4 separate regions of the Homo sapiens genome follow, and all the other regions are linked to region 1. Evidence: fine-mapped expression QTL. A gene starts in region 1. Each other region holds a variant in brackets. All regions are shown on one strand. Distances are between the middles of the regions.

The links. PIP is the estimated chance that this variant, and not a neighbour inherited with it, causes the effect. A credible set is the group of variants that fine-mapping cannot tell apart.
Region 2: its variant is the best candidate, but not a certain one, in a credible set for the expression of LINC01474 in breast (GTEx, PIP 0.51).
Region 3: its variant is the best candidate, but not a certain one, in a credible set for the expression of LINC01474 in whole blood (TOPMed, PIP 0.64).
Region 4: its variant is the best candidate, but not a certain one, in a credible set for the expression of LINC01474 in visceral fat (GTEx, PIP 0.55).

What each region holds. Positions count from the first base shown.
Region 1 is chr9:72,872,994-72,875,687 of GRCh38, forward strand. LINC01474 (long intergenic non-protein coding RNA 1474) reads right to left here and starts at 1,116. Exons shown (of 4, transcript NR_121181.1): 1 at 1,075-1,116; 2 at 34-162.
Region 2 is chr9:72,930,821-72,933,514 of GRCh38, forward strand. It overlaps ALDH1A1 (aldehyde dehydrogenase 1 family member A1), which reads right to left. Exons shown (of 13, transcript NM_000689.5): 3 at 59-199. Among named protein-coding and RNA genes, the nearest start is that of ALDH1A1, 21 kb to the right of the region's middle. The variant G/C (reference allele first, on the strand shown) is at 1,433.
Region 3 is chr9:72,808,896-72,811,589 of GRCh38, forward strand. The region is part of intron 18 of TMC1 (transmembrane channel like 1); the gene reads left to right. Among named protein-coding and RNA genes, the nearest start is that of LINC01474, 64 kb to the right of the region's middle. The variant T/C (reference allele first, on the strand shown) is at 1,382.
Region 4 is chr9:72,897,319-72,900,012 of GRCh38, forward strand. No RefSeq gene overlaps it. Among named protein-coding and RNA genes, the nearest start is that of LINC01474, 25 kb to the left of the region's middle. The variant C/T (reference allele first, on the strand shown) is at 1,488.

The DNA.
Region 1 (2,694 bases):
TCATCTGGCGTGGCTGTGTACACTGATACATACCTGTCAGAGGTCAGACATACAGTCCTGTTCTTTTTGATCCTTCATATGTACCAGGCTAATTATGAATTAGTATTTTGGCCTCTCTCAGTCTGAATGTTGCTGGTAGCTTTTTTCTCTCCCAGGTCCTGACTTCACAGATAACAATCCACAATTAAACTCATTTATTTAATAAAGCTTCAGTGACAGTAAAGCTTCCTATGTTGATGTTTACTTATAGATTTGGGTAATAAACCAACAGATGGTAGATACAAAAAACTGAGTCACAACAAGCATATCCTAATAGTCTGCTAAAGTAAAAGATTGAATATAAAATAATAACTATTCTATCCAAGCTATCTAAGCCTAGATAATGAAATATTTAAAAACCTTGCCTAGAAAGCAAATATTCCCTTTAGAATTTTTTGAAAAATACCTAGAAAAGTTATTTGAGGGCAGTTTACTTGCATTCCTCAAATTGTACAATTGGCAATTTAAACGAAAACTTTCTACTGACCTTTGAAGTCTCTTGAAGTTTTTTTTGCTTGTTTATTTTGTTTTGTTTTTAATTTAAGAAAGAAGAGGCATCCAGCTCTGCCTTTTTCCCTCATTAAGACATACCAACAGAAATAACTGGCTGCATTTGGTCTTAGCCAATATCATATGATTATTTTTAGGGATTTTTTTGGCCCCCACACAGTGCATGGTTGAACTGCCAAAATATAAATCAAGATATGAAACTTACTACATTCTTCAGAATTAATAAATATTTTCCCTGGTTAAAGCAAGACTCCCATAAGCAAATCATCCAAAATAAACTAGATTAATTAGGTCCAGAATGGATAAGATAGAATATTCACAAAGGATAACACTGTATACAATTATAAATATTCATTCCTTTGTGTTGCTAATTTTAGATTAGGTCAGCCTGTGGATGTATTAGTCTGTTCTCACACTGATATAAAGAACTACCTGAGACTGGGTAATTTGTGAAGAAAAGGGGTTTGACTCACAGTTCCACAGGCTGTACAGGAGGCATGGCTGGGGAAGCCTCAGGAAACTTACAATCATGGCAGAAGGGTGAAGGGGAAGCACGCATATCTTCACATGGTGGCCGGAGAGAGAGAGAGAGTGAAGGGAGGAAGTGCCACACACTTTTAAACCATTGGATCTCATGAGAACTCACTCACTATCACGAGAACAGTAGGAGGGAAATCCACCTCCATGATCCAATCACTTCCCACCAGGTCCCTCCTCCAACATGTGGGGATTGCATTTCGACATGAGATTTCGGTGGGGACACAGAGTCAAACCATATCAGTGGACATGTAATGAAAATGAAAGAGCCTAGCACACTTTAAAAATGCTCTTCATATCTCGGTGCACTGACTAAGATGGCAGGGCAGGCTTCAAATGCCTGCTCTATCGGTCACTACTGTGCAGCTAGGCATCCACTAAACTCTTTGTGCCTCAGTGCCCTAACCTATAAAATAGGCATCATTCCAGCTTGTACACACCATAAGGTTTTGATGAGGATGGGATGAGATCAGGTTTCTAAGGTACTTGGTGTGTAAATAAGCTCTTAATTGAAAATCATATAGTATTATTAATGGCCAGTGATTTTGTTTCATTGCTTAACTCTGCCAGGATGTAACTGTGGGGCAGTGATTCTCACTCCCCCAACCTCAGGAGACATTTGGCAATGTCCAGAGACATTTTTGGTTGTGGGGGGGCTACTGGTATCTACTGAGTAGAATTCAGAGATGCTGCTAATACCCCACAATGCACAGGCAGCCCCCACAGCAAGACTCAGACAGCCCCAAATGCAATAGTGCCAGGTTGAGAAACCCTGCTCTAGTGGGCCTCCTTTTTACTGAGTGTATGTTATACAAGAGTGTGACTTTGTGTTTTGTGCTCTCTAGTTTACTTTCTGCTCCTCTCCCCAATGCTCCCAGACTGTGAACTCCTTGGGGGCAAGTTCTGAGTCATCGTTACTGTGGCCATGCCTGCAATGTCCAGCCCAAGTCCTGGCCTAGACGAGGCCTCAGTAAATGCTTGCTGAAGGGTATTTTAAAACTGCTTTTCAGAAACTCTATTGTAAAACACTAAATCTACCAATGGGGACTATGCATCGATTATTACAGTTCTGAAACTATGGTAGTTTCAGTACATTTGTTCTGACAAGGTACGAGAAAGTTTATGGCACGGTCATCACAGCACATGTTTTGGAGTTGGAAAGACCTCAGTTTGAATTCTACCCTCAATTTACCACTTAGCCTTTTGTAAGTTATAAAAATGTTGACAATAATGCATTTATTCCAGGGATGCTGTGAGAGACTTTATAAGATGGTCAGTGTGAAGAGCCTAGCTCAGAAAATAGTTCCTAGCAGCTAGGATGTGCTATGACTTCAGGCAAGTTCTCAACCCCTACCTCCCCAGCCACAGCCTTCTCTGTAAAGGGGAGATAATAACTTCCTTGTATGATGCTAAAAGGATTGAATCAGGCCATGATGTGCTTAGCAGAGTTTAATAAATGGTGACTATTATTATTATAATCTTTTCATTTCAGTGGCAAAAAAACTGAAAAAAAATAAATAGTTCTCTGTCTTGTGTTTTTCACTTATCCCATCTCTTTTATTAATACTCCCCAAGAGCAGCAGGAAGGAAACAAAACAAAACAAGAGA
Region 2 (2,694 bases), 58 kb after region 1:
TCAAACGCTGAATGCTTTTGAGAGCTCTAGCTACCCATCCAGCTTGGATAATACTCACCGCCAGCAGCAGACGATCTCTTTCGATTAAATCAGCCAACTTGTATAATAGTCGCCCCCTCTCGGAAGCATCCATAGTACGCCACGGGGATCCAATCTGAAAAGCCTGTCTTGCGGCCTTCACTGCCTTGTCAACATCCTCCTGTAAGTCAACAGGAATTCAATTCAGTAAGCTAAACATATTAGGCAAGCAAATTTAATGCCAATAACCCTGTAAAATAGACTGTAGTGCCTCATAAGCAGGCACTGTGTCTCCATTATCCCAAAGTCTAACACATTGCGCACATTCAACTACTGTATGTTGGAATTACTCCTGCTGAATAATCTTTACATGATGAGCTCCACGTACCTAGCACATGCTGGATTTCCTAGAATATAAGTGTTTTATGATTTTAATAGTTGCTATCATCTGAGTGCTTGCCCTGTTTCAAGTAATGTTCTGATGACTTTATACCTATTAGCTCATTTAATTCTCATTAATTTTATGGCACAAATATGTTCCCTGTTTTACAGATGAAGAAACTAAAGCAAAGAGAGACGGGAGCTTTGCTCAAGGTTAATAACTAAAAGTGGCTGAACTGAGTTTTAAAGGGAGCCCATCTGATTGTAGAATCTTTGCTGTTTACCACACATTATACTTTCTTAGTGACTGGGTTACAGGAATTCCAGGTCAAGCTCAAGATCCAAAATAATGAATATCTTCCTTGGTCTCTGGTGACTCAACAGCCTGTCCACTTTCATGAAGAGCCTATTGAAGGGTGAATAAGAACTTTGCTTTGCTGTTGAAGAATAAACCTTAGAAACATGTGCTCATTCCTCTTGTGCAGAGGGAACAGGGCATGGAAATAGTGGAACTAATAGAGTAGGATGTGCATGTGACAACCTCTCATTTCCCAACTGGGTACAAAGAGATCCTTTTAAATCCCTAATCCGATAAAGAAGTCAGTTTCTTATTAAAGATGCATGGCTTAAAACTACATTAATTCAAGTAAAAGTCAAAGAGTAAAGTGACTCCACATTCAGTGTAGCCTCCTGTCCTTCACTCTCATAGTGCCTTCACTCAATTTCTTTCTCTGTTGTGTTTTTCTACACCAGATATATTCTCTGGTTCTTTTGCAATTCACCTCAGTTACAAATATTGCCCTGACCACTCCACTCCCCTGCAGATCCCTGTTCAGACCTCTTCTGAGCTCTTACAGAACATACCTACTACTACTGCAAACACCATAAAGGAATATATCATTCCAGTGTTCTTTTGTACATAGAACTGGCCACTACATGGAATTGTATAGCTCCACAAATAGTGGCTATATCACAGGCCAGTAGGTTGCAATATTTTGCAGGAGACACAATTCCCTTTAAGAATTGGGGGAGA[G/C]AAAAAGTAATGACCCTAGATTTTTTTAAAAAATTGTACACAATTAAGCTAAATCCCATCTAAGGAGATATCTTCCCCTCAAATGGACCTCAAATTAACATCCTCCTCCTTAGGCTATATTCAATCAAGAAGACCCACACTTACAAGTCTGTGAATTAAAATACAAAAAAACTATTCTTCTAGTATTTATCACCAAAATAATATGATCTGGGGCAAGAGAGATATTTTAGAAGCACAATCTGGTCTGATTAAGTAATAATATTTACTGACTACAAGCAAAGATTCTTTCAGTGTAATACATCACACACTGATATATCTCACTGTCTAACTTTTCAGAGAATGATGATATATACAAAATATATGTATTTATTGCCTGCCTTTCCTGAGAAATACATATACAGTGCATATTTGCGGCATTCAGTTAATCACATTGATTGCTTATATTTAGACATTGTTTCATGCCACACGTTCTAACTTTTTCCTAAATTTACAGAGCACTGTTTGAAAAAAAGAAAAAGCAAACCACAAAAATCTGAGATTGTCAGCATGATCTGTGGATACCAGAGCTTATAAAATACATGCTGGTCTGTGTTTAAACAGATCTGTATGACACAGCTTTCATTTGGATCTTTCTGTTCAGTGTCCTGCTATTGGTCTTAGCCAAATATGGGCTATCATAGGGATCTTGGCCTCCCAAAGGGATACGGAGAACTGGCTTCAAGATAAGTAACTCTCCCATATGGAAAGCACATCCCTAAAGAATGCTGCTATAAATAAAGATGTTCTTATGATTATGTCCTTTGGATCATGCGCCCCCTTTTCTCACATCTTATATGTAATCTTGCAGATGCAGAAATACAGTAATGTTAGTTAATATATAGTTTGATATGAAAACAACCCAGATTTGAATTCTGATTCCTCTTCATTAGCTGTGTAAACCTTGAGGCATCTAACCATTCATCCCTCTAGCTAAAGGTTTGATAAATATTCGACTCTGCAGCATTCTCATCATCCCTCCGCTAAAGACAGCAGAGTGAAGTAAGAAGATTGTCCTTTTGGAATATTCAATCAAATGGGAGAGACATACAATCAAATCACTATCCCAAAACATTATTATAAACCATGAAATATGTTGTGGCATGACTTCTCTAAGGTTCAGCTTTCTTTTCTTTAAAATCAAGGTATGTTGCTTGGTGTGGTGGCGTGTGCCTGTAGTCCCAGCTACCCAGGAGGCTGAAGTGGGAGGATCGTTTGAACCTGAG
Region 3 (2,694 bases), 64 kb before region 1:
TTTGAGATGGTACCTTTTATAAGGTCGTCTCCATCACCCTCATTGAAAGTGCCTCCTCGGACTGGCCAAAAGCAGTTAGGTAATGCTCTTCGGTGAACGACAGTGAGGTAATGGCTACAGATACAGGATGCTCTTGTGTTGCTTTCCCATTCTTTGCTATGAGGTATTCAGCTGGCTTGGTTTCATTTCTATTTTCCTTACCTGATTCAGCTCCTCTGAGGCAGACATAAAAATTGCCATTTCTTCCTTAGACCATTGCTTGGCTTGTACTTACCTTTTATCCCTTGGCTGCCTTCTTCTTAAGTGGCAGAAAATCTGAGTGCAAATATGAAGTCAATATTACATGACCTGGATGCATAAAAGCTGTAATTAAATGACTGTAATTTATTATTTATTGACTGCTGACAGTGTTCCTGGGTTAGTAGAAAGTACAGGAAAAAAGACAAGTTCCTGTTTTAGGTCACAGAGAAGGAATTTTCTCCCACGTTACCTTTGGAAGGCTCAAAAAAGCTCTGTCAGAATCAAAACAAGTTTTAAAACATTAATGATGGATGACGAATCTTTGATGTAGATCCCATTGTCATTGACTTACCAAATGGATAGCTTACACGGGTGAGGGCCTACTAGGTGCAAGCCATTATGAACAAACTCTGTGCTAGGTGATAAAGGAATACAGGGATGTAGAAGATGTAGACTTACGTAGAGGTTGCAAATTTGGCCTGCAGGGTAGATTCAGCTAATGGATATTTTTGTTTGGTATGCCCAGTGGTGGTGTTTGTTTTTGTTTCATTTTTTATGAGCTAATATTTTAAAATGAGAGCTCTTACATAAAAACACATGGATTTATTGTTTTTCTTGAAAGGCTGGCAACATTAAATCTGTATTCCCACTAGGGAGAAATTGGCTGGAGTTGAGAAACCACTGCCATCTGCAGTTGGGATATTCATTCTCCAGTTCCTCATACTCTTCACCACTCTTTTCTCTTACAAGCTCCCGATATAAATAGAGAAATCAATTGTATGGCCCTTGAAGAGAAAGTGTGTGTGTGTTTGTGTGTGTGTGTGAGAGAGAGAGAGACAGGCGTGCATCAGTAGAAATGCAGACACAGAGGAGGAGACATTTGAACTAAGTCTTGAAGAATGATCAGGATTTCAAGAGATGAAAGAAAGAATTCCCGGTGGAGGGACAAGTGTAAGACAGAGCACCAGAGATAGATAGTGTGGGCAATCCAGGCATAGATTAAAAAAAAAAAAAAAAAAAACTAAAATGAGGCTGTTTTAGAGCAGAAAAGGCTAATAAGAATGTTTCTCTGCTATTCTCCTAGACCTGCTAATCAATAATATGGTTTCAGAAAGTACCTGTCATGAAGGGAAGGACAACC[T/C]GAGATAGGCAGAGGACATACTTGAGAATTCTGTCAGAAATAAAAGATAAAATCATGGTCCTTTCTACTGTATGCATGCATGTGCATGTATACACACACACAAAGCACATGATTTTTTTCTTCTGAATTCCAAAAATAATGCCAGTTTATTGTAGAAAATTTGGAAAATATAACAAAGCTAATATGAAAGTAAAAATCATAGGTAATCTCTGCCACTAATGAGATTAATTATTTGGATTGTTGAATCAAATAGTGTTAGATAACAAGTGCTACATATTTATATATAGTAACAGATTTTTATAAATATACACATATATACTTTTGTATACGTATATATGTGTGTAAACAGGTAGTAGAGTAGACTGGTTACTTGCTTTTATTTGTTTTACCTAACACTGATCATTTCCCAATGCTATTAACTGTTGTTTTGTAACATACCTTTTAAATGGTTGTATAATATTCTGTATGCAAATGTAGTATAATTAATCTAATTAGTTTTTAATTTGCTTTAAGTTGAACTGTCTAATTATTCTTATGATAATAAGTGTTGTGATGACATTTAATTATATCCATGTACATAAGTATCTTCATAGATAAATCATAGTGGATGTACAAATTATTTTCTTATGATAAATTTCTCTGAGTTGAATTGCTCAGTCACAGTAGAGGGCTTTAAAAAAGTCTATTCACTTTTATTACAACAGCCTCTGTAGAGACTCTGCAGATTTCAGCATTAGATTCAGAGATCTATAGAATGCTAAAGTTAGGTGGATTTTGACACAACCAGTTGTAATGCATGTATTTAACATATGAAAAATTGCATCTGTGAATTGAAATGAGGTTCCTAAGTTTATGTAGCCAGAGAATAATAAGGACAATGAAGTACACTTCTGGACGAAAATGTTATGTTAAATGTATTGATTTCTGTACTGGCTCTATCTGAGTAAGCTGGGTTAAAAGGGATTGTGAATATTTTTCAAGACACAAATTTATGGTCATAATGTTATCACAACAAACCTATGAAGATTAACTAAGGTGGAAAAATTACTGGCTTGGAGCAGATTACCAGACCAATGTAAGTTAATGTAATGTAAGTTAATGTCTCCAAAGGCTTCTCTGAGCACAGTTCTCAGTGTTTCAGAAGAGTTCATGAGGAGTAGAATAGTTTGTCCCTAGGAAGGATTTTAACTGCTCTAATTTAATACAAAGTGTGCCCTCTTGTAAACTTTGGGTTTTCTTTGGCAGTTCAATGCAGAATATCTTTATCTTCACTTCAGTTTTCATTGACACCATTCTTACTATTTACCAGCAAA
Region 4 (2,694 bases), 24 kb after region 1:
CCACCACCCAGAATCAAAGGGCCAATTAAGAGACATGATCTTGACTTGTCTCAAGCACCCACAGATAATTTTGTGGTTTGGTCTTCAGAGAGACACCACCTCTGCTCTTCCACAGAATGTCAGAATGGTAAGTGAACTCTTTTCCCTCCCTTGTGTCTTGACTCAGGATATTCTCCAGGATGCTACAGTCCTTGTGTCCTACAACAGAAAGCTTTCCTGCATTCCTGGCAGTCACTAAATTCTGGTATCTAGAAAATTTAGTTCTCATTGCCAATTTCCCTTTCAATATATTCTTTCACCACCAGACTGGAAAAGCTCAAACACGTCTCCAGAGAACATTAAAAAATCCCAAGGCATTCTGTTCTTGTGTTAGTTTGCTGAAGATAATGGCTTTCAGCTCCATCCATGTCCATGCAAAGGACACGATCTCATTCTTTTTATGGCTGCATAGTATCCTATGGTGTACATGTAGCACATTTTTTTTTATCTAGTCTATCATTGATGAGCAGTTGGGTTGATTTCATGTCTTTGTTATTGTGAATAGTGTTGCAGTGAACATACATGTGCATGTATCTTTATAAAAGAACGATTTATACTCCTTTAGGTGTATACCCAGTAATGGGATTTCTGGGTCAAATGGTATTTCACATCCTGCACATGTATCCTGGAACTTAAAATAAAATAAAATTTTAAAAAATCCCAGGATAAATCAGTAAATGAAACTCTAATAGCAAATGTGTTTCATGTGAAAATGTAACCTGGTCATGTAGTATACTCTGAAAAAGCCAGGAGAACTAATTTGCAGAATTGCATTTCTAAGTGTTCAAGTGAAATTAGACACTCAAAACATTACACACATTGCCCAGACAAAAGATCTTTTGAGTTCATTGCTCCCTCCTGAATTATGTGAAGAAATGGCTAAAATTCTCTGAGTTGGTTCTATTTGAGTTGGTCACAAGAATTTAAGAAAAACGTTTAACCTGCCTTCCATTTCTTGTTGGCTGTTTCAAAATAAAGCCAGAGGTATGTATTCAATAAAGCCAGAAGTATGTATCCTTAGAAGATAACAACAACAAAAAGACAAAACAACAACAACAACCACAACAACAAAAGAGAAAAAAGAAAAAGAAGAAAACCGAACTAGATTAGACATTTGTGAATGAGTATCTGATACCTGATGTTGTCTCTGCCTAAAAAAGTGAATTCCAACCTCTGTCACTTAGTTTGGTATTCCTGGAGATAAAAATACTTTACCATTTGTACACTGAGGACAATGAGATCATAGTTATGACCGCAAAACTGAATTTTTCAAGATGAAATTTCTTACTGGAATTCCTCTAGCACATGAGCTAATAAGATACTTTTTAACTTTTCAAGGTTTTAAGAATTACTACCTGTATGGCTTTAATATAAATAATGAAATATAATACAAATAATGTCTAGAGACTCAGAACGAGCCAATATAAAACAGATATTTTCTGTTTAAT[C/T]CTGTAATGTCTTATTTATACAATGAAAATTTTCTAATATTTAAACTTGCTTCTGGCTTTTGTCTTGTTCTGTCCTCTGCTTTCTTTGTTACACATTTTAAAATGTTCTGGTTGCATGCCATTACAATATTAACTTGTCTACCTATTAATTTATTTACACGTGGCTTTAAACACATCTTTTAAAATGTAGACACTGTCTGGCTTTAGGAAAACACAACTCCCTCTGTGTTTGGACACTTTTCCTTCTCATTGTCCAAAGACCTTTCAGTTCTCCCCAAGGCTTTGGTTTCTTCAGTTTTCAAAAGGGTAAACATGTCCCAAATCTTACGAGGTAGTCCAAATTGCAAAGTTTATAGGCCAACATAAGTTTGAAAAACTCTCGAAATGGGAGTTAAATTATTTCCTGTAAAAGAAGCCAATGAACTTCATTTGTTCTTACATTGTTACACTTGACTGCAGCAGCTAGTAGTGTCCTAATAATAGAGGCACTGAAGTGTCTGTTAATGTAAAATGATAAACTTATATAAAATCTGAAAAAAATGTTATCCTAAGTTGCCAAACTAAAAAAATTTTAGAATGTGTATAGTTATACACAAATGTTCATTTCATTTGGGCCTAAATCACTTTGTATATGGAAGCACAACAGAAGAATGAAAACACAAGCAGCAATTCTGTTATGAGGGGGTAAATGTGTAAGCTTGGTGTAGTTTCATGTGGAGGACATTTTTTTCAGCTGCTCTCTTTTGATTCCCAGATCTCTCCTTAGAACTCTAAGGGTTCCCTCATTGCATAGGACAGCAAGGGTTTTTATTTTTATTTTTATTTTTGAAACAGGGTCCCACTCTGTCACCCAGGCTAGAGTGCAGTAGTATGATCATGGCTCACTGCAGCCTCGACCTCCCAGGTTCAAGCCATCCTCCTGCCTCAGCCTCTCATGTAGATGGGACCACAGGTTTGTGCCCCTATGCCTGGCTAATTTTTTTTTTTAAATAAAGGTGGGATTTTGCCCATTGCCCAGGCTGGTCTCAAACTCCTGGGCTCAACAGATCCACCTGCTGTGGCCTCCCAAAGTGCTAGGATTACAGGAGTGAGCCACTGTATTCAGCCCAGCATGGGTTTCTTAATGTTAATTGGTGGTAACTGAGGAGGTGAGGGAGAGGAGACAAAGTCTCTGCTAATTTGGAAAAAAAAAGGGGGGGCTCTATTA